Linked DNA regions of Homo sapiens: region 1 is linked to region 2. Evidence: fine-mapped QTL for protein levels in blood plasma. A gene starts in region 2. The other region holds a variant in brackets. All regions are shown on one strand. Distances are between the middles of the regions.

Region 1 (12,305 bases), 61 kb before region 2:
GAATGCTAGATACATCTTCTTCCTTTAATTTATTTATCCAACAAATATTTAATAGGCAGCTATTACATATCAGATATCTGCTAGACTTTAGCTATATAGCAACGTGAAAAAATAGGCATGGGCCTTGTTCTCGTGAAACGTAAGTACCCAATGAAGGATAAATATGTCAGCAATCTTAAAAATTCATTCAACAAATACGTATTCATTCAACATATATATAATATGTACCAGACACTGTTCTAGGTACTTGAGATAATGATGAAAAAGTAGACAGAGATTCGCCGCCATATAGGGTTTACATTCTAGTAGGATAAGACAGAAAATAAAACCTCTAGACATAAAAAATAAGTTATGTATATATCTTATTAGAGGGTGATAAATATTATGGAAAAGGGGGGGAAAGTAGGGTAAGGGTTTTTAGTAATGGAACAGGGATTAAGATAGGATTTGGGATGGGTTGTCATTTTAAACAGGACAGTCAGTGTAGTCTCATTGAGAAGGGGACATTAAAGCAAAAATTTATAGGAGTTGGGGGAATTGACTATGCAAATATCCAGGGAATGTGTGTTCTCTTAGAGAGAATAGCCAATGTAAAAGGTCTAATATGGGAATATCCAGGAGTGTTCCAGGTATAGAAACAAGGCTCAATTGTCTGGAGCTGGGTCGGCAAGGGGTGAAAAAACAGGTATAGGAGAGTGGTTGTGGATTATGCAGGGCCATGTGGGCCGTTGTAAGGACTTTGGCTTTCACTAAGATAAATGGGGAGCCATTGTAGGGGTTTGAGCACAGAGCAATATGACCTGACTTACATTTTAACGGAAGGACTTGTTTCATATTACAACCTGTAACTGTAGATCATGATAGATGTGTTCTAAAATGGGATAAGAGAGGGACCTAATTTGAAATATCTGTTTGATCTTGGGCCCTAAGCTTAGCCAACCTCAGCCCTGCCTCACTGGGTCATTGTGGTGAGGACTTGACAACATGCTGTATCCATATGCACATGCTGTATACTATTCTTTGTAATAATGCAGAATGAAACAGAATCCAGTGTTAGATTATGAGCTACACACTGCATTAGTAGTAAAAGCATGAGTTGCATTGTGGAAAGGAGTAGTGTCACCCCCCAAGGGGTGAAAATTGGTTCTTGGGAAGCAAAAAGAAAAAAAAGTTACTCTTTTAATGTACAAAATGCATATGTATATACAATATGCAAACAGATATGTAGTATATCTGCAGCATTTTTATTTCATAGAGAAATATCTGAAAAGGCTCCTTTGGGAGCAGGGAAGGGACAGTGTGTGATCATGAAAAAAAGATTGGAAAATACTGAGTTAAGGAAGAGATTTAGTAGCAGAAATATTACTGAGCTGGAGGTTCAAAAACCACAGCTAAAGTCAGCTCCGCCATTAAGTTTTTGTGTAAACTTGGACCATTCACTTCCACTTTCTAGGTTTAAATTTTTTTCAAATGTAAAATAAAATGTTTGAATGATCTCTTAGGTTTTCACCAGCTGTAAAACTAGGAGGAAGATTTGAACTGGAATCCATTCAATTAAAAACACCTGATTATAGAACCTATCAAAATGTGTAAGGTATTTGGACCCATTGAATGTCACTTTTCAATAAGATAAATGTCCAGTGTCAATAGCCTTTGAAGTCTCTGACCTCTTTTTCCTTACCCATTCTTTAAGCTAGAATTCTAGAAATGCTGCTCTAATTCCCAGTAGAAGATTCCTGGATACAATATTGAAGTCTAAGAGTACAACGAAGTTTTGCCAAGATGCCCATCAAATGTTCTGAAGCTTGTCAACAGGAGTTGCATTGCTTCACAGTTTTCACATGATTTCTAGACATTAAAGTCCCTTTACAACCTAGCTGGGTTGTCACTTCAAGGAGAAAGATGTATGTGGTGTGGCAAAGGGAAGCAGGAATTAGCAGGATAGAGTACCAGATTAAAAAGAATTTGGGGGGCACACATATTCACAGCATCTGTGGATGGCATTGACTGAACAGCCTTGTGCATACAATTTTTTATTGCTTATCCAGACCTGGGCTTATTGCACTAAGAAAACTTTAAATAGTTTTTCCTCGGTTTTATTTTTCTCTTCTGGGCCCTCCAGCTACATTTAAAAGCCCCTTTGAAGACAGAGAATGTGTCTTCTAACGCTTTTGTTGTGCTCAATTCAGCATTCTGTATATGATAGGATTTTAGTGAATGTTTGTTGATGGTGATGATCATGCAGATTTAAGGGGGAAAAATAAAAATTAAAGCCATAAGTCTTTGAGTCCCTAATTTGGGTGGTCTATACTGATGTGTCTATAGGCCAGAGCATTTATCTTCTTTTCCTTCTGCTGTTTAATCACCTAGTGGTGTTTCCAGATAAGAAATGTAAATGGAATTCATTACCTAACCAGGGCATGTAATTCATTTATCACAGGGTATCAATAGGCAAATAATTGTTCTATGTGATAAATTCAGCAGTAAATAGATGAGAGGCCATTGTGAAGAATTGTAGCTCTCCACTGAATTGCAGGGGTTCTTGAATGTTGTCAACATTTGGAGGCAGTTGGAGGAGGGAGCTCTATTGATGAAAAATGGCTACATATTCAAAATTTCAGTGTATACCAGGAAGATAATTCAATTCAATCTCTGGCTTACCCAAAGAATCTTGGAGTTACTGCCAATGAGGAAATCCCCAGGGTCTAATAAAAATATCTTTAGGAGTGAAGGAGTTAACTGAGTGTGTAAGCTTTATCTTCTGTCCAATGGACTTGTGGTTTGCTTATAAAACTCTCCAGTAAATAATTGTTAGAGACCTGTCATTGATAGCAGTTGCTAGTTGCTGCCTTTTAAGAGCTCGTTGATTCCTCTGCAAGGTGGTGCAGCATCCTCTGTCCCTTCATTCATTTCAGATCTACTCAGGTCTCCCTGTAAACAGATCTCTCGGATCAATAAGCATGAATGACGAAGACTACAGCACCATCTATGACACAATCCAAAATGAGAGGACGTATGAGGTTCCAGACCAGCCAGAAGAAAATGAAAGTCCCCATTATGATGATGTCCATGAGTACTTAAGGCCAGAAAATGATTTATATGCCACTCAGCTGAATACCCATGAGTATGATTTTGTGTCAGTCTATACCATTAAGGGTGAAGAGACCAGCTTGGCCTCTGTCCAGTCAGAAGACAGAGGCTACCTCCTGCCTGATGAGATATACTCTGAACTCCAGGAGGCTCATCCAGGTGAGCCCCAGGAGGACAGGGGCATCTCAATGGAAGGGTTATATTCATCAACCCAGGACCAGCAACTCTGCGCAGCAGAACTCCAGGAGAATGGGAGTGTGATGAAGGAAGATCTGCCTTCTCCTTCAAGCTTCACCATTCAGCACAGTAAGGCCTTCTCTACCACCAAGTATTCCTGCTATTCTGATGCTGAAGGTTTGGAAGAAAAGGAGGGAGCTCACATGAACCCTGAGATTTACCTCTTTGTGAAGGTAAGGTCTGCCTCTGACAGGCATACCCTGTTCATGCAGATATTATGGCTGGTGTTTTATTTTGCTCTGAATGACCAGGGAAAGATTCATAATGCCATGGTCCTTGGATCTCAATACATATTCAGGAGTCGGAGGGACTAAATCAGTCATTAGAGTGTACTCAGCTCTTCACAAAATTAGAGGAATTGGAAGGTGCATTTAAAGCACGTATTTAATCACTGACTTTTACATACCATGGGCAAAGTATTTTTCAAAACGGTTCACATAAGTGAGCCATAACTGCTGCCCAAATCCTTGCCATTGTGGCTGACATTAAGTACATTTTTCTGTCTGGTTAAATTTCCTTTGTCAACATGTTTAAAAGTGAAACCAAAGCTTGTGAAAGAAAGACCTTCTTGTGCTTCTAAGGTCACAGATTTGTCAGATAGGTGGTCAATAAAGGCTATCTCTGTCACTAGCTTGCCCCTTTGGCACCAATATAACTAAAAATTTGATGAAGTCAAATGATTTCAGTAGTAGTAAGACACTACCAGTGTTAATGTTTAATGCTTACGATATCTAAACAGAACCTTGGTGATCT[T/C]TGTATTAGATGATAAAGTAATAAAGTTATGGTTATAAATATTATCAAAATGTAAAGTGTTTCAGACCTAAACAAATCATCTTTATTAATCAAGATGGCAGGCCCTTTTTCCCCAACATCTCCCCCACAATATTCATATTTATGTGATTTTTAGAAATGTTTTCACATTTATTATATAAATATATTTGTAAATGCTGCTCTTTCCTGCCAATAAAAATGATTATAAACCTACAGAAACCATAGTTCATACTCATTTCTCTCTTCCCCAGTTCCCAGTAACATTTCTGATGAAACACACTTTACTAATTTTGCCCTTTGTTGTCTTGTAATTTGTTCTTTTCTCTAATTGTTTTGTGTGTAAATCATGGATCACTTATTCTACTACAAGGTCCTTTTAAAAATAATCTAGTATAGTGCTTGGTTCACACATACATACCAGACACACATTGCCTTGTACTCTGCTGAGCATTTGGGGGGAAAGGGCTGTGCAAGACAAGGCCCTTGCTCTTAAGTAATGAATAATATGGTGACAGAGACAGACTTGCACTCAATGTATTCTAATACAATATAGTAAGAGATGAAACAGAGGAGTGGGTGGAGTGTGTGGGTGTTCAGAGAAGGAGTGCTGAGATGTGTACTGAGTTTGGAGCAGCTCCACGGAGGAGGTGATGTTAGAACAGGTGCATTCACGCAGTTTTCTGACCTCCATATCCACATCATCACTGTCACACTGTGCAAACAAACTTTTTTTTTTTTCTTTTTTGAGACAGAGTCTCACTGTGTCACCCAGGCTGGAGTGCAATGGCATGATCTCAGCTCACTGCAACTTTCACCTCCCAGATTCAAATGATTCTCCTGCTTCAGCCTCCCGAGTAGCTGGGATTACAGGCATGTGCCACCTGGTCTGGCTAATTTTTGAATTTTTAGTAGAGATGGGGTTTTGCCATGTTGGCCAGGCTGGTCTCAAACTCCTAACCTCAAGTGATCCACCCGCCTCAACCTCCCAGAGTGCTGGGATTACAGACGTGAGCCACAGCTCCTGGCCACAGACTTTTTTAAAGTGAGGACTAGATGTATTTTTTTTTTCTCATGGCAGAAGCATCCATGCAACCTGTGACAGGCAAAGTGGGTCATCACCATGATCATCATCATGGACCCATCTGACATTATTTCTAAATTTGGCTAAGTGTTTATCTCACTAGAAATTAGCCTATGGCTGGTATTGAGCAAAAACAGAAGTAGTAGGAAAAAGAAGTGTTGGTACTTCCTGGCAGTACCAGCAACAGGGAAAATTGATTGACTATAACATGTAATTCCTAAATTACTTAAAATTTCCTAAAGCAAATATTAGATTTAACTCTTTAAGTTTACATTCTTTTTAGCATAATTGTGTGAACTGAAAGGCCATAGAGTGTCCCACTGACCTCAGCTTCTATGCATAAACTCCTTTTTAAGGATATTCAGTAATAAAAAGAGCGGCAGTTATAATCCCTGCTTCCTAGCTCCACACTCGGCCCTATCTTCACTGAAGTTCCTTACCCAATGTTGAATGGAAGTAGAATATATAAAATCGAGTAAAACAGGGCCTTCTCTGCTTGAGTGAAACTGTAGGGTGTGAGTGTGACCTCTCAGGCCTTTTCCTCTTCCCTGCTCTGTGGAAGGGATGTTGGTCCCCCACACTGGAGGGAGCTCTGTGGCTCACTGTCTTCCTAGTAGGGCTTACGGCTTTTCAGTTCTGGATGTTCTTCTCCTGGGCTGTTTTAGTGTGGACCACTGGGCTGCATTGATACTTGTATTCATTTGTGTATGTTTTCACCTGTTCTAGACATGTTGGTGAGAATGTCATGCAGGTTTGTAAGTATATGTTTAACCAACATTTTATTGAGGCTTAATCATTTCAGAGTGTTGACCAATTATTTAATTAAGTAACATATGTCATTCATTTATTCATTCAACAGATCTTATGTCAGGTGCTGGGTTTACACCAATGAAGAAAAAAAAAGTCTCGTCTCCCATGCACTTTTTTTTTTTTGGGACGGAGTTTCACTCTGCCACCCAGGCTGGAGGGCAGCTCACTGCAACCTCTGCCTCCCGAGTAGCTTAGATTACAGGCATGCGCCACCATGCCCAGGTAATTTTTGTATTTTTAGTAGAGACGGGTTTTCACTATGTTGTTCAGGATGGTCTCGATTTCTTGACTTCAGTGATCCACCCACCTCGGCCTCCCAAAGTTCTGGGATTACAGGCATGAGCCACCGCGCCCAGCCATGTCTCCCAGGCACTTTGCATTGTAGTGGGAGAGACAACTGATAAACAAATAAACAAATAAATATAAAATAGGGCTAATGGTGAAAATGCTATAAAACAGGATATGGGTGTATTAATTTCTTATTTCTGCTCTAACAAATTACCTAAAACTTAGTGGATTAAAAGAATACAAATATTCTCTTACAGTTCTGGGGGTCAGAAGTCTGAAATGAGTCTTATGGGGCTAAACTCAAGGTGTCAGCAGAGCTGTTTTCCTTCTGGAGGCTCTGGGGAGAATTTGTTTCTTTCTCTTTTCCATCTTCTAGAAGCAGATCTCATTCCTCGCGCATGGCCCACATCACATCACCTCTTCTCGCCCTGTTTCCATCATCCCATTGCCTTCTTCCGACTCTCCTTGCATTTCTCTTGTAAGGAACTTTGCGATTAGATTGGACCCACAAGGATAATCCGGGATAATCTCCTCATTTTAAAATTCTTAGTTGAATCACATTTGCAAGTCCGTTTGTCACATAAAGTAATCTGCAGCTTCTGGGAATTCGGACATGGCCATATTTGGCGGATGGAGAGTGACGGTAAGTAGGCGCGAGGCAGTAGTGTGGCTGCAGTGGGTGAGCCAGGGAGGCAAGGTGGTAGGAGATGAGGCTGGAGAGGTGCAGAGGCACAGACCATGATCACAGCAGTCCTTAGGGGCCACTAGGGGAACCTCACTCACTCTGAGTGACAGCGGGAGGCATTGGGCGATTTTGGAAGGAACAGTATGGCCACCTTTTTATAACAGGCTGTAGCTGGGACGGGTAGACACAGTAACAGGGAAAAACAGTTTAGAGGCAACTGACAAACTTCAGGCAAGAGATGAGGGTGCGTTACTGTGACAGCAGTGGAGCATTGGGATTGTTTTGAAGGGAAAGCCCAAGCATTTTGCTGAAGAATTTGATGTGGGTGAAAAGAAAAATAAAGAGCCATGGTTGACTCTAGAGATTATAGTGAGCTATGGACCCCTTCTCAGAAAATGTGCGAATGAGAAAGCTGATATTCGCTAATGTGTCTGTATGTATGTATGTTAAAGAGAGGGGATGGGTGGTGAGAGAGATGGAGAGAGAAAAAAGCATTCTAGTATTTTGTTTAATGCAAAGGAAGAAAGTATTCTGATAATGGTTATTGCAAAAGAAAATGGTACAAATAAACACCATTTGTCCTATACATAATTTATGTCATTTATTATGGAAGCGGAATATGTCTTAGAGCAGGTTTTTGTTTTCGTTTTTGTCTTGAGACAGGGTCTCACTCTGTTGCCCAAGCTGGAGGGCAATGGTGCAAACACAGCTCATTGCAGCCTCAATCTCCTGGGCTCAAGCCATTCTCCCGCCTCAGCCTCTAGAATAGCTGGGACCACAGGTGTGCACCACCATACCCATCTAATTAAATTTTTTGTTTGTTTGTTTGTTTGTTTGTAGAGACAGGGTCTTGCCCCGTTGCCAGGGCTGTTCTTAAACTCCTGGGCTCAAGTGATTCTCCCACCTCAGCCTCCCAAAATGCTAGGATTACAAGCAGAAGCCACTGTGCCCAGCCCCTAGAGCAGGTTTTGAAGTCTGGTTGCATGGATTTGAAACCTACTTTAGCAGATTAATTTCTGTTAAATTATTGAGCTTCTCTCAGCCTCAATTTCCTCATTGATAAAATGGACATTATGATACCTTCCTCATAGGGTTATTATAAAGATTAAATAAGATAATGCTTATAAGTTGCTTAATATAGTATCTGACATATGGTAAATGTCAATATATAGGAGCCTAAATTATTACTTATTGTGATAAATTGGAACCATTCAGGAAATGACGTTTTATTTTAAGCATAGTGCTTTGCAGCAAGCATTCAGTAAATATCCTACTGGGTTTTTCAAACATGAGCAATACAATATTGTGGAAAGAGCAGTGGTCAGGGAATTCTAACACAACTTTGTCAATACTTTTGCATAAAATGTCCCTGGACCCAAATTTCTTCATCCTTGAAAGGAATCTTTCCTAGATCTTACAGTCTTAGATTCCAAGGTGTATGGCTCCAACTCCTGGTCAGTGTGTACATGTGTATATGGCACCACCTATTATCCACTCTAAGATACTGCTCAACACTGACTATGGTTTCTAGATTTGGCTGTGGTTGGAAAAGTTGACATAAGAACAACACTCCTGTCCACACTCAGCTCACGTGAAGCCTGTCCCTTGGAAAGTATCTGCAGCTTCAGAGCCTATCTCTGATAGAACACTTATAGGGCCCTCATGCGGGGATGCACAGGTTGTGCACTGAACAAGTTTAGGGGGCACTATTCACAGAAAATGTAAATGTCCTGTTGAAGTCAGGCAACAGAACAACACTGGTTAATACTTTTTAGACTCATAGCCCATAATTATTCTAAAGGAATTATTCACTATAATTTGGCTCAGCATAGTAAAGTGCTCCAGAATTGTCGTAATTACTATTATTGCCATAGCAGAGGTGCCTGATGTGGTTATAGGGGTCATGGTATTCAAAATGGGGCACTCAACATAATCCATGTGGTGTTAGAATACTATAATTAGAATGAAAAATAATAAGCAACATTTCTATTGAACTTTTATCTAACCACCTTAAATGTTAATATTTTATATATTTTACAATGAGCACAGTGTACTCTTACAGTAGTATATACATATATAATTTGTAAGTGAGTAAATATACATATATTGTGGGTAAATGTTTTATATTGATAGGGATATGCAATTTTAAAAAAACATTACTGATTTGTAGGCTTTCCTTCCTTTTCTGCTATGATCTGTGGGCCTGGACCTCTTTCCTTGGCCAAGAGCTGATGAGAACAGATCCCCTTACTTCCTAGGTTCTTCCTGGATGCTTTCATAAGCAACACATTTAGTGCATTTACCTTGGAGGCAAACAAAGTTTTATCATTGCAGGTGAGAAACTTATAAAATCCCCTTGAGGAAATGAGATAAATGAAGCTGGATTGGGATGTTGAGATGTGGCTCAAAGGACGTCCCAGGCAGTGGGCTCAGCAGAAGCAGAGTCACAGCCAACACTCACATGTGTATGGCAAGGTCCATTTGGTTGAGTGGGTCAGAAGGCCCACATAGGTGAAGAGCAGATGACGAAGTTGAATAACTAAGAGTGCTGCCTTTCACTGCAAACTAAGGGGCTTGGATCTTATCCTGAGAGCAACCAAGAGTAATAGAATGTTCTGAGGAGGATACCATGAGCAAAACAATGTTTAGGACAGCAAGCAAATTAAAAAGAATTTCCACCTACCAGCTAGAACAGAACCAAACAGACATCATGCTTTGTTTCAAAGATTAGTTCAAGTATTTAGATATAAATATATCATATATCATTAACACTGTATCTCTTCAACTGATCATCTGGATGTGTCCACGTATTTAAATCTGTGGCTTCATATAAACCAATTTTCGTGGAAAAAGCTAGCTGGTGTGATGCTGATTTATATATTATCTATCTGTGTATCCAGCTACTTTATATTTTGTGAGGGTAAGGGGGAGATATATGGATTCAGCACAAGGTTTTGATTGTTATTTTAGTATAGTTTCCAGTTTAAAAAGTGTGTTTGCATGGGGTGAGATAGCCTGGCTGGACTCACTTAATTAGAGTGCTGGGAACACAATCAAGGCCCAGTTTTATTCAAAATTATTTTCTAGGTGCCCATATGAACTGGTTTGCTTTGTGAATCAATGCCATTAATCAAAGACTCTCAGAATCTTAGCACTGTGCCAAGAATGTGGAAAGTCAGAGGAGTGAACCAACCTTCCTAAGGCTGCCTGCAAATCACTGGCAAGCTAGTACATTGGGCTGTCCATCCAGGGGATTTTTCTTTATATCGGCATTCCTAGCCTGGGAATATATTCATATGTTCATGAATATGCTTCAGAAGGTTGAGGAACATTCTAGAACCCTATGCAAAAATATTTGTGCCAGATGATTTCAGGAGGGTCCATGAACTCTCAGAAATGTTAACTATCACTGTGATGCTTTCCACTTTCCCTGCCTGGGTACTCACACCTTGTGTGCCCATGTGGGAGGGGTAGAATAAGCTATGGGGTGAAACAAATCCTTTTCTAAGCCTTTTAGCACCTTTAGGAACCATGGGAAGAAACCTTCATGAAAGAATAATAAAGAAGCATCACCAAATAATCATGTGAGAGTTATGTTAACTCTGAAAATGAAAGTGATGTGATACTCTGAAATACATATCCCCAAATTAGGGCCCATATTTTTTTCTAAAGAATGTTTTGCAATTTTTCCCCCAAGAGACTACAAACTCAATGTCAATGCATGCACTACTAATCCCATCATCCTGGACAGCATCACTAATTGTACAAACTAAAACTTCTGAATAACTTGGATTTGCATTTCTCCTTTACTTTCAATAGTGCAATCGATTTCACCTCTGAAAATATTCTCTCCTCTTCATCTTGGCCACTACTGATCAGTGTCATCTTGACCACAGCTGTTTAACTGGTCACTCTGCCTCTAGAGTCATCCATCTCCCTAGGATCCCCCCTCCCCCCACCTAGCCACAGGAATGATCCACATGTGTTTCTTTTTTTTTTTTTTTCTTTTAAGTTCAGGGGTACATTAGCAGATTTGTTATATAGGTAAATTTGTGTTATGGGGGTTTGTTGTACAGATTATTTCATCACTCAGGTATTAAGCCTATTCCCATTAGTTATTTTCCCTGATCCTCTCCCTCCTCCCACCCTCTACCCTCCGATAGGCCCCAGTGTGTGTTGTTCCCCTCTATTTGTCTGTGTGTTCTCATCATTTAGCTCCCACTTATGGGTGAGAGCATGCGGTGTTTGGTTTTCTGTTCCTGCATTAGTTTGCTAAGGATAATGGCCTCCAGCTCTACCCATGTTCCTGCAAAGAACATGATCTCGTTCTTTTATGGTTGCATAGTATTCCATGGTATATATGTACCACATTTTCTTTATCCAGTCTACCATTTATAGGCATTCAGGTTGATTCCATGTCTTTGCTATTGCGAATAGTGCTGCAAAGAACTTATGCATCCATGTGTCTTTATGATAGAACAATTTATATTCCTTTAGGTATATACCCAGTAATGAGATTGCTGGGTAGAAGGGTCATTCTGTTTTTAGGTCTCTGAGGAATCACCACCACACTGCTTTCCACAAAGGCTGAACTAACTTACACTCTAATCAACAGTGTATAAGTGGTCATTAATCTCTGCAACTTTGCCAGCACCTGTTATTTTTTGACTTTTTAATAATAGCCATTCTGACTGGTATGAGATGGTATTTCATTATGATTTTGATTTGTATTTCTCTAATAATTAGCGATAAGCTTTTTTTCATATGGTTGTTGGCCCCATGTATGTCTTCTTTTGAAAAGTATTCATGTCCTTTGCCCACTTTTTAATGGGATTGTTTTTTTCTTGTAAATTTGTTAAATTTATATGAAAAAAAATTTAAGTTCCTTTTAGATGCTGGATATTACATCTTTGTCAGATACATAGCTTGCAAAATTTTTCTCCTGTTCTGTAGGTTGTTTACTCTGTTGATAGTTTCTTTTGCTGTTCAGAAGCTCTTTAGTTTAATTAGATCCCATTTGTGAATTTTTGCTTTTGTTTCAACTGATTTTGGCATCTTTGTCATGAAATCTTTGCCTGTTTCTATGCCCAGAATGGTATTGCTTAGGTTGTCTTCCAAGGTTTTTATAGTTCTGGGCTTTACATTTAAATCTTTAATCTATCTTGAGTTGATTTTTGTATATGAAATAAAGAAGGGGTCCAGTTTCAATCTTCTGCATATGGCTAGACAGTTATCCCAGCACAATTTATTGAATAGGGAGTCCTCTCCCCATTGCTTGTTTTTGTCAGCTTTGTCGAAGATCTGATGGTTATAGGTGTGCGGCCGTATTTTGGGGCTGTCTAT
Region 2 (12,305 bases):
ATGAAAGTTTGTTTTATTTTGTTGATCAGCCTAATTAGAAGCACTGCATCTCATAAAATAGAAATCTCTTTTACATTTCTGAAATTAATGGTAAGATGAGGTCTGATGTTACAGATTTGAAGCAAAGACTGTGTGGAAAGTGGGTATGGCAATAGAACCTGATGGCTTTACCTTTTTGGAAATTATTTAAGCATTTTGATCATTTTTTAAATTTGCATACAGAAAATTCACCTTTTTGGTGTGTAGTTCTGTATATTTTAACACATACAGAAATGTGTGTAACCAATGACACAAACAGGATGCAAAGTAGTTCTATCAGCTGAAAGCTGCCCCTTTGTAATCAAGCCCTCATCTATCCCAGTCCCTGGCAGCCACTGATCTTCTCTCCATCCCTATAATTTTTTTATTTTCCAGAATGTCATGTAAATGAAACCATACAGTAAGTAACCTTTTGAGACTGCTTTTCTTTTTCACTTAATATGGGGCATTTGAGATTTACCTGTGTTGTGCACCAATTAATAGCTCATTCTTTTTATCGCTAAGTGATATACCGTTGCATAAATGTTATCACTTTTTTTAATTCATTTACCCATTGAGGAACATTTGGGGATGTTTCCAGTTTGGGGCAATTATGAATAATACTTTTGTAAAAAAAAATTTATGTACCAAGGTTTTATGTAAACATAAGTTTTCATTTCTCTTGGATAATACCCAGAAGATGGTAAGTGGGCCATATAGTAAGTGTACATTTGACTTTATATGAAAATGCCAAACTGCTGTCCAGAATGACTGTACAATTTTGCATTCCTACCATCAATGTATGAGAGTTCCAGTTGCTCTGTATTCTTGCTCACACATGGGATTATCATGAATGCACATTGTAACCATTCTAATAGGTATATTGTGGTATCTCTTTATTTGCATTGCTCTACTGAAGAACGTTGAGCATATTTTCATGTGTTTGCCATTGGTAAGTCTTCTAGGTTAAAGTGTCTGCTCAGATATTTTGCCTATTTTTTTAGCTGGGTTTTTTTTTTTTTTTTTTTTTGAGTTGTAAAAATTCTTTACAAATCCTGGATACAAGTCCTTCACTTCCTCCTCTTCTCATTACTGGAAGAGATTGCATGGAATTGGTGTTATTCTTTCTAAAATGTTTAGTAGAATTCATTAATGAAGGTATATGGGGCTGTAGTTTTCTTTTCTTGGAGGGCTTTCAACTATGAATTTAATATGTTTAATAAATATAGGACTATTCAGGTTATCTACTTCTCATTGAGTGAATTTTGTTAGTCTGTGTCTTTTATCCATTTTATCTAAATGGTCTAATTTATGTTCAGAGAGTTGTTTGTAGTACTCCCTTATCTTTTTGTATCTGTGAAGTTCATAGTTGATATCCCATCTTTTGTATCTAACATTGATAATATATCTTCTCTCTCTAGTTTTTTGGTAAATCTAGTGAGAAATTTATCAACTTTATTGATCTTTGATAAAAACCAGCCTCTAGTATTATTGATTTTCTCTATTGTTTTATTTTTTCTTCGATTTCATTAATTTCTGTTTTTATATTTATTATTTTATTATTTTTGCTTGCTTTGGTTTTAGCTGGCTGTTCTTTTTTCTAGTTCCATAAAATGGAAGCCTAGATTATAAATTTCAGAACTTTATTATTTTCCAAAATAAGTGTTTTATGTATAAATTTCTACTAAGCGTTGCTTTAGCTGCATCTCACAAATTTTGATATGTTGTATGTTCATTTGAATTCAGTTCAAAATATTTTTTAATAATCCTTGAGGCTTCCTTGTTGATCAATGAATTTCTTAAAGTGTGTTGCTTAATTTCCAAATAACTGGAAGTGTTTTGGATATCTTTCTGGATATTAATTTAATTGATTCCATTATGGTCAGAGAACATACTTTGTATAATTTCATTATTTTAACGTAATGAAGTTTGTTCTGTGACCCAGAATGTGATCTCTTTTGGTAAATGTTCCATATATATCTGACAATAGTGTATATTATGTTGTTGTTTGGGTGGGATATTCCACAAATGTTCATAAGGTCAAGGTTATTGATAGTGTTGTTTAGGTCTTCTATATTCTATATTCTTATGGATTTTTTGTCTACTTGTGCTATAAATTACCAAAAGAGGAGAACTGAAGTCTCTAACTATAATTCTGTATTTCTCTTTCTCCTTTCAGTTCCATCAGCTATTGTTTCATCAATATTGAAGCTCTGTTATTAAGTATATATGCATTTAAGGTTGTTCTATCTTCTTGGTGAGCTGGCTCTGTTATTATTATTATTATTATGTAATGTCTCTATTCCTGATAATTTCCTTTTTCTGAAGTCTATTTTGTCTAATAGACTTACATTAATATATGTTTATATATTATTAATAATTATATTAATTTAGAGGTTAGCTTTCTTTTTTTTTTTTTTTTTTTTGAGACGGAGTCTCGCTCTGTCGCCCAGGCCGGACTGCGGACTGCAGTGGCGCAATCTCGGCTCACTGCAAGCTCCGCTTCCCGGGTTCACGCCATTCTCCTGCCTCAGCCTCCCCAGTAGCTGGGACTACAGGCGCCCGCCACCGCGCCCGGCTAATTTTTTGTATTTTTAGTAGAGACGGGGTTTCACCTTGTTAGCCAGGATGGTCTCGATCTCCTGACCTCATGATCCATCCGCCTCGGCCTCCCAAAGTGCTGGGATTACAGGCGTGAGCCACCGCGCCCGGCCCAGCTTTCTTTTGATTAGTGTTTGCATGGCAGGGGCTTTTCCATCCTCTTACTTTTAATTTATCAATAACATTGTGTTTGAAGTGAATTCTGTAACAGCATATAGTTGGGTCTTCTTGTTGCTTTTTTATGCAATCCAACAATCTTCAGCTTTTAATTTATGTGCTTAGACCATTTATATTTAGCTTAAGTATTAATATGGTTATATTTAGGTGTACCATTTTATTATCAGTTTTCTATTCTCTTCCTCTTTTCTGCCTTTTAGATTATTTGAATATTTCTTGTCATTCCATTTTAGCTTATCTGTTGGCTTTTTTTTTTTTACTATACTTTTGTTTTATAACTCAAATAGCTGTTTCTTTAGGGATTACAATACACATACCTAGTTTTTCTCAGGCTACTTAGAGTTTACTATATCAAGTAAAGTATATAAACCTTACAACTGTATAAATTCCTTGCCCTTTACCCTTTATGCTGCAGTGGTCATATTATTGAATCTAAATATATTAAAAATGCTATCAGATATGTTATAGTTTTCACTTTCAACAGTCATACAAAAATATGAATGTCACACAGATTTGCATGTCACCCTTTCATTGGAGCCATGCCAATCTTCTCTGTATGGTTTCCATTTTAGAATATGTGCTGCCAAAGTGAGCACTAAATGTGTTTTTAAAGTACTTTCCTGGTAAAAATTTATTCAAAACTTGCACCACATTTGTGAAACTATGGGCTGGAATTAGACATATAGTGTTTTTCTCCAGACAAAGCTAGAATTGACTCTAACCAATTATTCTTTAACATTAAAGGGTACAAAGTAAAGTCCTTTTATCTTGAGCTAAGGCATAATATGAAATTGAAAATGGAAAATATGCACAGAAATAGTTTATGACCAAAGAAGAATTATTTTTTTTGCAGCATGAAGCTTTATAATATCAAAACTATAAGTTATCTGCAGGGATGTCCAAATGGGAGATATTTCCTATAAAATGTTATTGAAAGAGATCTGTCCAAATTTACAATAGCAGTAGATATTTGGAGAAGATAAAATGAAAGTTAACTCTGATAGGTTTGGGATTAAGGAAAGAGAAGTCATACCACACATTGTTTAGATCATAGCCAAGGAAATGATCGAAAATACGTGTAACACATTTTTCATTAAAACAAAAAACAAAAAACCAAAACCCTCGAAGACATTTTATGCATATAATTTTATTTGCTACTGCCACATTGCCATTAAGAATATTGCCTACACTTCAGTGCAGGGATGTTCTGAGTCTGTGCATCATGCAGCGAAGGCACCAGTCTCCCTCTGTAACCTTGGTCCTTCCCTAAAGTATGTAGTCATTGGTGCAGAATGTACAGCTGTGAAGGTGACTGTTTCTCTAAAGGCTTTGGTGATGTAAGCCTGAAGCCAAGCAGGAGGAAAGCAATTAAACATCACCTTGATTAAGTTATAATGTACCAAGAGAGTTGCACGTTGGGCTTGGTGACTGCTTTCTTCAGGAAGGAGGAATTTGCACTGAGAGTCTGTGGGGACACAGCCTGCCATAAAGGGTAGTGAGGACATCTTTCCCTTTTCTTTGCCTATCAGATGCCTGACCTTTCAGGAAGGTTCAGCTAAAGTGCCTTTTGCTCCATGAAGCCTTTTCCTCTCCTCACCCCAACCATGGTAAATAGTATCTTTACGTGACAGCTTGTATAGCTCCTTCATCTTCCCAATTCATGTGGCAGCCTTAGTTTTCATTTCATGTAACTATTATTCTGAAAGGGATTTTGATCTCTGTTAAGACCGTTAAAACCATGCCTTTGTTTCCTCAAAGTGTGCACTTCCATAGTGTGCACTAAGAAAAGCAGTTTGTAGAGCAGTTGAGAGGACAGGCTCAAGTCTGTCTGGGTTTAAATCCTGACTTCACCATTTCCTAGCTGAATGACTAGGGATAAGTTACTTAAATACTTCATGTCTCAGTTTCCCCACTTGTAAAATTGGGATCATTATACTATTTGTAAATATTATACAAGTTCACACATGTAAAGTGCTCAACATTTTTGCCTAGCACATAATAAGTATTATTACTTATTTTTTTATTAAGCGATAAATTTTTTAATAAAGCTATTAAACAAATACATGTTTTTAGTAAGGAAGGACATAGCACAAACAGGATTAATTAAAGAGAAGGCAAAGAAGACAAAGAGAATTCCACCAGATTCTGGTGCAAAACATTCAATAATTATTTTTTAAAGAACTGAAGGGTGGGAATGTCTGTTGGTGCAACCACTTTAGAAAACCTATGGCAGTGTTTACACAAGGAGAGCATTCTTATACACTACAACTCAGCAAGTCCACTCCTAAGTATACATCCAAGAGAAAAGTGTCTGTGAATCCAACCAAAAGATGTTTGATAGAGAGAATGTTCGTGACAGAGTAGTCATGATAGTCACCTGCACAAATGTCCATTGACAGAAGAATGAATAAGTAAGTGTGTCGGTGAAAATGGATGATACACAACTACACATAGCACAATGGATGAATCTCACAAACATAGTAATGAGCGAAAGAAGCCAGACACCAACATTCCAGGCAAAAAGATCCTATGCTGCTACAAGCCAGAATAATGGTTACCCTGGGACAGTGGAGACGGGAGAAAAGATGTGGAGAGGAGAGAGCAGGAGGAGCTTCTAGGGCTGTGGCTAACATTTTATTCTTCATCTGGCGCTCGTTACATGGGTGGGTTGGATTGTGAAAATTCATTGAGGCATACACCTAAGATATGTGCATCTTTTCTGTGTTTGCATCCTACTTCACTAAAACAACCAGAAGAGAACGGGAATGAAGTAAGATCAGAAAATAAAGGAAGAAATAGAAAGAAAATGAAAGAAGGGAGAAGAAAAATAAACAAACCCAGAAGGCTGAAAGGCATGGAAGCCGCACCTGACCGGGTTGACTCACCCCTCTGCCCCAGGAGCCACCCCTGCCCTGCCCTGCCCGTCCCCAGCACCCTACTCTCCTTTTGCTTAGCCCAAGGATGGCAAATGCCCCTTTTGGTGGGGGTTCTGAGCATCACTAAGACAGGAAGGGCTTTCCAAGTGGGTAAGGCTGGTAGTGGAGTAACTCGGAGGAGCTGACGCTTTATTAAAGAAACAGAAGACTTGAGAGCCATCTCCTCTCTTCCTTCCCCTTCCCCTTTCCCCTTCCTCTTCCCCTTCCCCTTTCCCCTTCCTCTTCCCCTTCCCCTTTCCCCTTCCTCTTCCCCTTCCCCTTTCCCCTTCCTCTTCCCCTTCCCCTTTCCCCTTCCTCTTCCCCTTCCCCTTCTCCTCGACTCTTTCTGCCTTCGCCTCATTATCCGCCCCCAGGACATCCTCTTGGCCTTGGTGGCTTTGCCAGGACCAGCTCTGTCTCCGCCTCCTGCCCTGCGGGGTCTTGGGGCGGGGGGCCGTGGCCCGGCCCAGGCCCGAGCTGCCGGGGTGTCCCCGCCGCGTCCCCGCCCGGCTGACCCCGCCCTGCAGCCGCCGGCTATTTTGGGCGCGTTGGCGGCGGCGGGATCGCTGACAGTCGCGGATCCTGTGACACCTCCGGGCAGCCCGGCACTTGTTGCTCCCACGACCTGTTGTCATTCCCTTAACCCGGCTTTCCCCGTGGCCCCCCGCCTCCTCCCGGCTTCGCTCCTTTTCATGTGAGCATCTGGGACACTGATCTCTCAGACCCCGCTGCTCGGGCTGGAGAATAGATGGTTTTGTGAAAAATTAAACACCGCCCTGAAGAGGAGCCCCGCTGGGCAGCGGCAGGAGCGCAGAGTGCTGGCCCAGGTGCTGCAGAGGTGGCGCCTCCCCGGCCCGGGACGGTAGCCCCGGGCGCCAACGGCATGACAGACTCGGCGACAGCTAACGGGGACGACAGGGACCCCGAGATCGAGCTCTTTGTGAAGGTAGGTCGGGGTCCAGTCTCCCGCCGCACCTGCCGCGCCTCCCGCCGGGCTCACCCACCAGGGCTCGGGGTGCGCTGGACTCCGGACCCTCCCAGGAGGGCGGCGCGGAGCCCTGTGCTCCCCCGTGGCCTTTCCGCAGGCCAGCGCCCCGCTGCGAGGCTCCTGGGCGGAATGGAGGAAGGCAGGTTCCGGCAGGTGGCCGTCTTCTCGGAGAGTTGATCCGCAGTTTGTCCACCCCCGTCCCCGCCTCCGCTGTCACCGCTGCGAGTCCGAGTCCAGAGCCCAGCCCGGACGCGATTCAGGCTGGTCCTGAAAGACGTCTCCAGGTGTCGGGATGCGGCAGAAACCTGGCTGGACCCGTGAACCTTTCCTTTAAAACGGGAGGAGGGGGAGGAATGGGAGAGAAACGTTATTGACACAATGATCTTTGGCAAAGCGAAAATGACATTTCTTAAAATTCTCTTTCTCTCTTTCGCTCAGAGATCCTAAAATAAAAGCCAAGGAGACAAAAGTGTTTTCTTGCTTGGTGACTTGCAAAGCAGAAAACAAGCACTCCATTCTCCGACGTTATTATTTTTGTCATAATCATGATTTTTCAAGGCAGTATCAAGGAAATGTTAGGCGTTTGGTAGTAGGGAGAGCCTCCCGTTCAACCTGATGCAGACAGGGATGAAGGAGCACAGTGCAAATTAAATGAAGTCACCTTGCTCCTTGGACAGAAACTGCCTAATGTCAGAGCTGCTGTACTTTATTTGCAACCTGTAGGAGGAAGGATGGAGGCGAGGCTGCGGCGGCGTTTCCCGGTCCGCCGGTGTAAGGAGAAAGAAACATTTGATCAGCCCTTGGTGCCGACGCTGCAGAAGTAGGGAAACCTGAGGCTGCGGGAGAGTAGCCTCCAGGGCTGAGCAGAAACAGTCGCCAGGACTTGGGGGAGGGGAAGTCGGGGACTGCCTGGGCGCCAAGACCTTTCACAAAGGGGGAAAACTCTCTCAGTGCAAAGTTTCCCTAGAAATATGCAGATCGCTGAGAAGGGAAGAGTCACTGGTGCCTGTCAGGGGCCTCCTGGCAGAATTTAAAAGGCATAAATATTCCCTGGAATTGGGAAAATGTTATTTTGCCCAAAAGATCCTTCTCTACAAGCTAATTAAATAGATGTTTGCAAAAAGTATGAGATCTACATAAACCTTGATAACAATCTGTGGTCTTTGGTACTTTCTGACTCTTAAAATGTGACTTACTTTACACTTGGTACGTGATCTGTCTCCGTTGTCCCAGCCTACCACAAAGGTTTGTTAAATTTCTTCTGCTGGGTTTTACATTCTTTGTGTTTATTTTTCAAGCTTACACCTGACATTTAGTGACACTTGCTTTCTTCAGCCTGTTCTCTTCCCACTGTGGCCCCTGTGTGCTCCTTTGGTTTCTGGGACTCCCCCCACCCCCACCCCAGGCTGGATTTCCAGGTCCTTTGGCAGACCCAGGTAATAAAGGAGGTCATTTCTCGTCTGATGCTGGGTAGTGTTGGACCTTAGGGCAGCAAGGGGGTGTTCTGAACCCCAGCATCCAGGCCTGGGCCCTAGGGGTGAATAGGGAGAGCTTTAACAAAGCGATGAGTCTTGCTGCTCTCCTTGAAGAAAGCGATTCTAGGACTTACTCAGATTCCTTGAGAGTGGTAGTTTCAAGGTGTCAAGTTTCTGAAAGATATTTGAAACACAAATAGGTTCTTTAGAACCAAAGGAGCCCTTTGCCCCACTCCTAGGTGTGGAGACCGATTCTACCTGCACCTTTGGAATTTTCTTGTTGGCAGTGTTGGAGAGTCTCTCCATTTATATAAAAACCTTACTGCACAATTTGCAGCGTTCCCCAAATAATTCTAAAATGACTGTGTTGTCATTTGTTTTTTCCCTAAAGGAAATCAATGAGAGCCAGGCAGGCCTTCATGGCTAGCTCAAAAACCAGATTGATGGGGAGATCAAAACATCAGGTATGAAAGTTGTTTTGACTCCTCCCTCAACCCCATCTTTTTGAGCTTCAGGTTAGCAGTTCTCATTTACAAGTAAATGGGACAAGTAAAGGCTAGAAATATTGTGAAATAAAGATGCTGCCCAGGCCTTACTTGAACTGTGTCATTTGAGGGAAGCAATATCCTTGTTGACAGAATCACACTTTTCCAAAGTTTGGAGTTTCTCTGAGGTACATGATTCCCCATAAAAAGAAAGGCCTTCTTGTTGATGGTGTCAGGTAACTGAAGCTCTTTCTGCAGGGCAGGGTGGGTTGGTTTCTATGAAGACTTCCAAGAAGGATGGGTCCCACCCAGTTATAGTCATGACTTGGTCATTTTCAACACCCCCTTGGAAGGACCTCCCAACCTCTTGTTTCCACTGGGTGTACCACTCTAAATCACAGTCACCTAATGAGTTTCACAATGACATGTAATTGTAATTGTCTCCCACGTCAATTGATAGTCATTATCTGTTACTACTACTGCTGATAATGATAATGATAAGAAGAAGGAAAGATTGCAGCATATTAGGACATAATAAGTATGTTCAAATACCTTATCTCATTTGATCATCAGCAACTTTATAAGGCTTGATTCACTTATGTGAAAGATAAAGAAAACAAATAAACTGGATTCACAGGTACCTTATGAGACTCGCTGTCAGAGCACTTGATGAGCTGCAGTTTGCTCTTCTTGTAACAGCCCAGGGAACTAAGAATGATAATTCCTCCTGTTCTGTTGAACAATACATGTGCTCACAGAAAGTAGGTAAAATGCCCAAAGGTAGATGGCAGATAGCATTCAGATCCAGTCCTCAAATCTAGCAGTTTAGACTTTGAATTTCTTGCTCTTTTCCAAATACCTATATGTCAGGCCTGATACCTTATTTTGCCAAGTTAGGCTTTCAAGTGCCATCATGGTGACATTTATTTATGTTATTAATCCATTCTAATGTGTTCATAGAATGCTTCCAAGGAGACTAACCCATTTCTGCTATGTACTCCGAGTCTTTCCCTTTCGGGGAACATTCTGACAGTGACTTTTAAGAGATTATTTCCCCACATTTTTAGTTTCTACAATAAGAAATGTTAGATCATGTCAACTCTGATTCTAATGTCCCATAATACCTGTGGATGGCGCAGGGATTTGGAGATGCAGTACCTGAGTTCAAGTCTTGCCTCTGCCTCTAATTAGCTAAATGATCCTGAACAAATTATTTAACTTTCAGGAGCCTCACTGGCCCTCTTAAAACAAGAGCATGGTTATAAATAAGGAGACCATATAATTTATTGTCCAAATCTAGACACTTTTGAGAGTGAAAGGGAATGATATCAATAATTAGGCTGGAACCACAGGTATAACCCAGGATAGTTTGGGAGCAAATAAGGATGTGTGGTCATTCTGGTTATGAAAATACTGTCATTGTAGATTTGCTGTGAGGATTCCATGGGAGAACATAGGTGAAAACACTTTGTAAATTGAAAATTGCTGTAAACACACTGACTTGAATATTATGAGTCCCATGGCAGACTGAACCTTTCTGGACCTGCACGTCCCTGATTTGCCTTGGGGAACAAAGGCCTGGCTCCTTCCTCACTTGCAGGGATATTTTGAGAGTAAATGAGATAATATGTAGCTTGGACTTTGATCCTAAGAGGAGGACAACAGGCTAGAGGTAATGGCAGTGAGTGTGGTTTATTGAAAGAAATAGAGCAAGGAAGTAAAAGCAAAACAGAAAGCAATTTGAAAAGACAAACACAGGATGTGCTGTGTAGGTTAGATCAAGGCATTCCACCCATTTGCATTGCTTCCTCCACTCCCAGTCTCACCCCTGGACCCCAGAAGTGACTAATGATACAGACAAGCTCGCCGCAAGTGTCTCTTCAGCCAGGAACTGAGGTTTCAACAGAAACCAGTGGTTCTCAGCCTTCACTACCTATTCAATCCATTGAGAGAGATTTTAAAACTTCTGATGGCAGTTTGCTCCCCAAGCCGATTACATCAGTGTGTCTGTGGGTGGGACCCTGAAACAATATTTTCATATCCACTCTCAGGTGGCTCCAGCGTGCAGCCCTGGTGGAGAGCCACTGAGTCATAATCAGAGGCAGGTCCAATAGCAGGCAGCTTCTGCCACCGCTGACATAGGTGGCCTTGCTAATGCTGATTAAATGTCCAGAACTTCTAACAGCCTCAGGGCATCACGGTCAGAAGTGTTGTTGATAGAAAGCTTGCATCCAATCACTGCCCAGTTAACAGATGCTGACGAACTATTAAGCCCTATCCACAGGACTCCAGAACAATCGTGTATAGGGTTGGTCTAGTCAAAGAATCATCAATTCAGCATGGGGGAAGTAAAACAGAGTTCTGCTAATTGTCTGATGGAAACGACTAGTCTTTCATTTATTGAGTGGCCCAAAAGTTTCTGAGTGGTGCAGGGTGCAATACAAGTTGTGGTGACTCGTGGTGTGGTCATCTGACTTCCAGAACAGATAGGATCAGATCTTGTGGTGTCGCCTCTATGTCCCTGAGCTACTGTGACTGCCTGGTCACCTTGGGCCGCTTGCCTAAGCATGAGCTCACTAGGTTTTTAAAGTTCCCTTCATCATATTAAGCTACTGTGTTTTTCTTTCCCACTATCTTCAGGTTTTGATCTGTAGTCAATAACGCAATACACAAATTTGCCTGCCCTGCTATGGCAGTGAGTGCTTCTTCTCCTGGTAACACATCCCTGGAGAGCTAGCGTCAAGAGTTGTATGATGCATATTTGAAGTGCCATGGCAGGGTGGTGGGAATGAGGACTGGGTCTGCAGAAGCTGACGTCCACTGCCAGTGTTGAGAGCTCCTGCATCCCTGATGACTTGTGTTGTCTCTTTGGGCATTTATTGGCCCCCTCCATGCAAGACAAAGCGTCTGTCAATTTAGACAGTCAGTTAGGTCAAAAACTTCTCATTCTTGGTTCCCTTTGAGTTGTCAGCTGCTGGCCCCATGTTAGTGGTGGCAAGAGATGTGGTGGAAGAGTGAAACTTTGGTGTCAGGCTCGGGTTCACCAGTGTGTTGGCCAGGATGGGCTGCTTGACCTCTCTGGACCACAGATTTTTTTTTTGTTTTAACCAGTGCAGTGCTAATAGCAGCAGCACATCTTTCATGGAGTTGGTGTCAGCATTTCAAGCTGAGTATGGATCTGGCCTATTAGTAAGTCTTTCTCTGTAGGCTCCATGTAGCCCAATAAGTAAAAGTAAAGCCCTTGGGCTTCCCTCCCTTGATGTGTACAAGAAGTCAGAGGCTCAGTCCTACCAGCTGAATCTCACATCTCAGAACCAAGATACTTCTTGAAAGAAAATGTAAGTTTCCAAAGCAGGTCGTCATTCAGGGAACTGGAAGAGAAATGTTCCCGATTGTTGGAGCTGACCCCTGAGAACACAAGCAGTGAGTCTCATTGCTGCAGACCAATGGCAACTGAAGTACAGTGCAACCACCACTGGATCTGACTGCCTCTGACTGGACTGCTGCTCCATAAGCTGGAGCCCACTAGAGCCCATGTCTGGAGTAATGTGGTTGGACTGACTACAGGGTAACTGCAGATCCCTGACCCACTGGGTTCTTCAAACTCAGGGGAAGTTGATTCCTCCTGTCAGTTGCTCCCTCATCC

What was found. A credible set is the group of variants that fine-mapping cannot tell apart. PIP is the posterior inclusion probability: the model's chance that the variant is causal. The UK Biobank Pharma Proteomics Project read protein levels with antibody pairs (Olink). The fine-mapping took linkage between variants from a reference panel, not from the people measured, so its PIPs are less certain.
Region 1: its variant is the best candidate, but not a certain one, in a credible set for the plasma level of the CLIC5 protein (UK Biobank, PIP 0.74).

Annotation. Positions count from the first base shown.
Region 1 is chr6:46,070,898-46,083,202 of GRCh38, reverse strand. It overlaps a transcript of CLIC5 not described here. Among named protein-coding and RNA genes, the nearest start is that of ENPP4, 53 kb to the left of the region's middle. The variant T/C (reference allele first, on the strand shown) is at 4,081.
Region 2 is chr6:46,009,832-46,022,136 of GRCh38, reverse strand. CLIC5 (chloride intracellular channel 5) reads left to right here and starts at 6,277. Exons shown (of 6, transcript NM_016929.5): 1 at 6,277-6,657. The coding sequence starts at 6,595. It also overlaps the pseudogene RNU6-754P. RefSeq lists enhancers at 5,475-6,319, 6,320-7,164, 10,593-10,642 and a silencer at 6,577-6,626.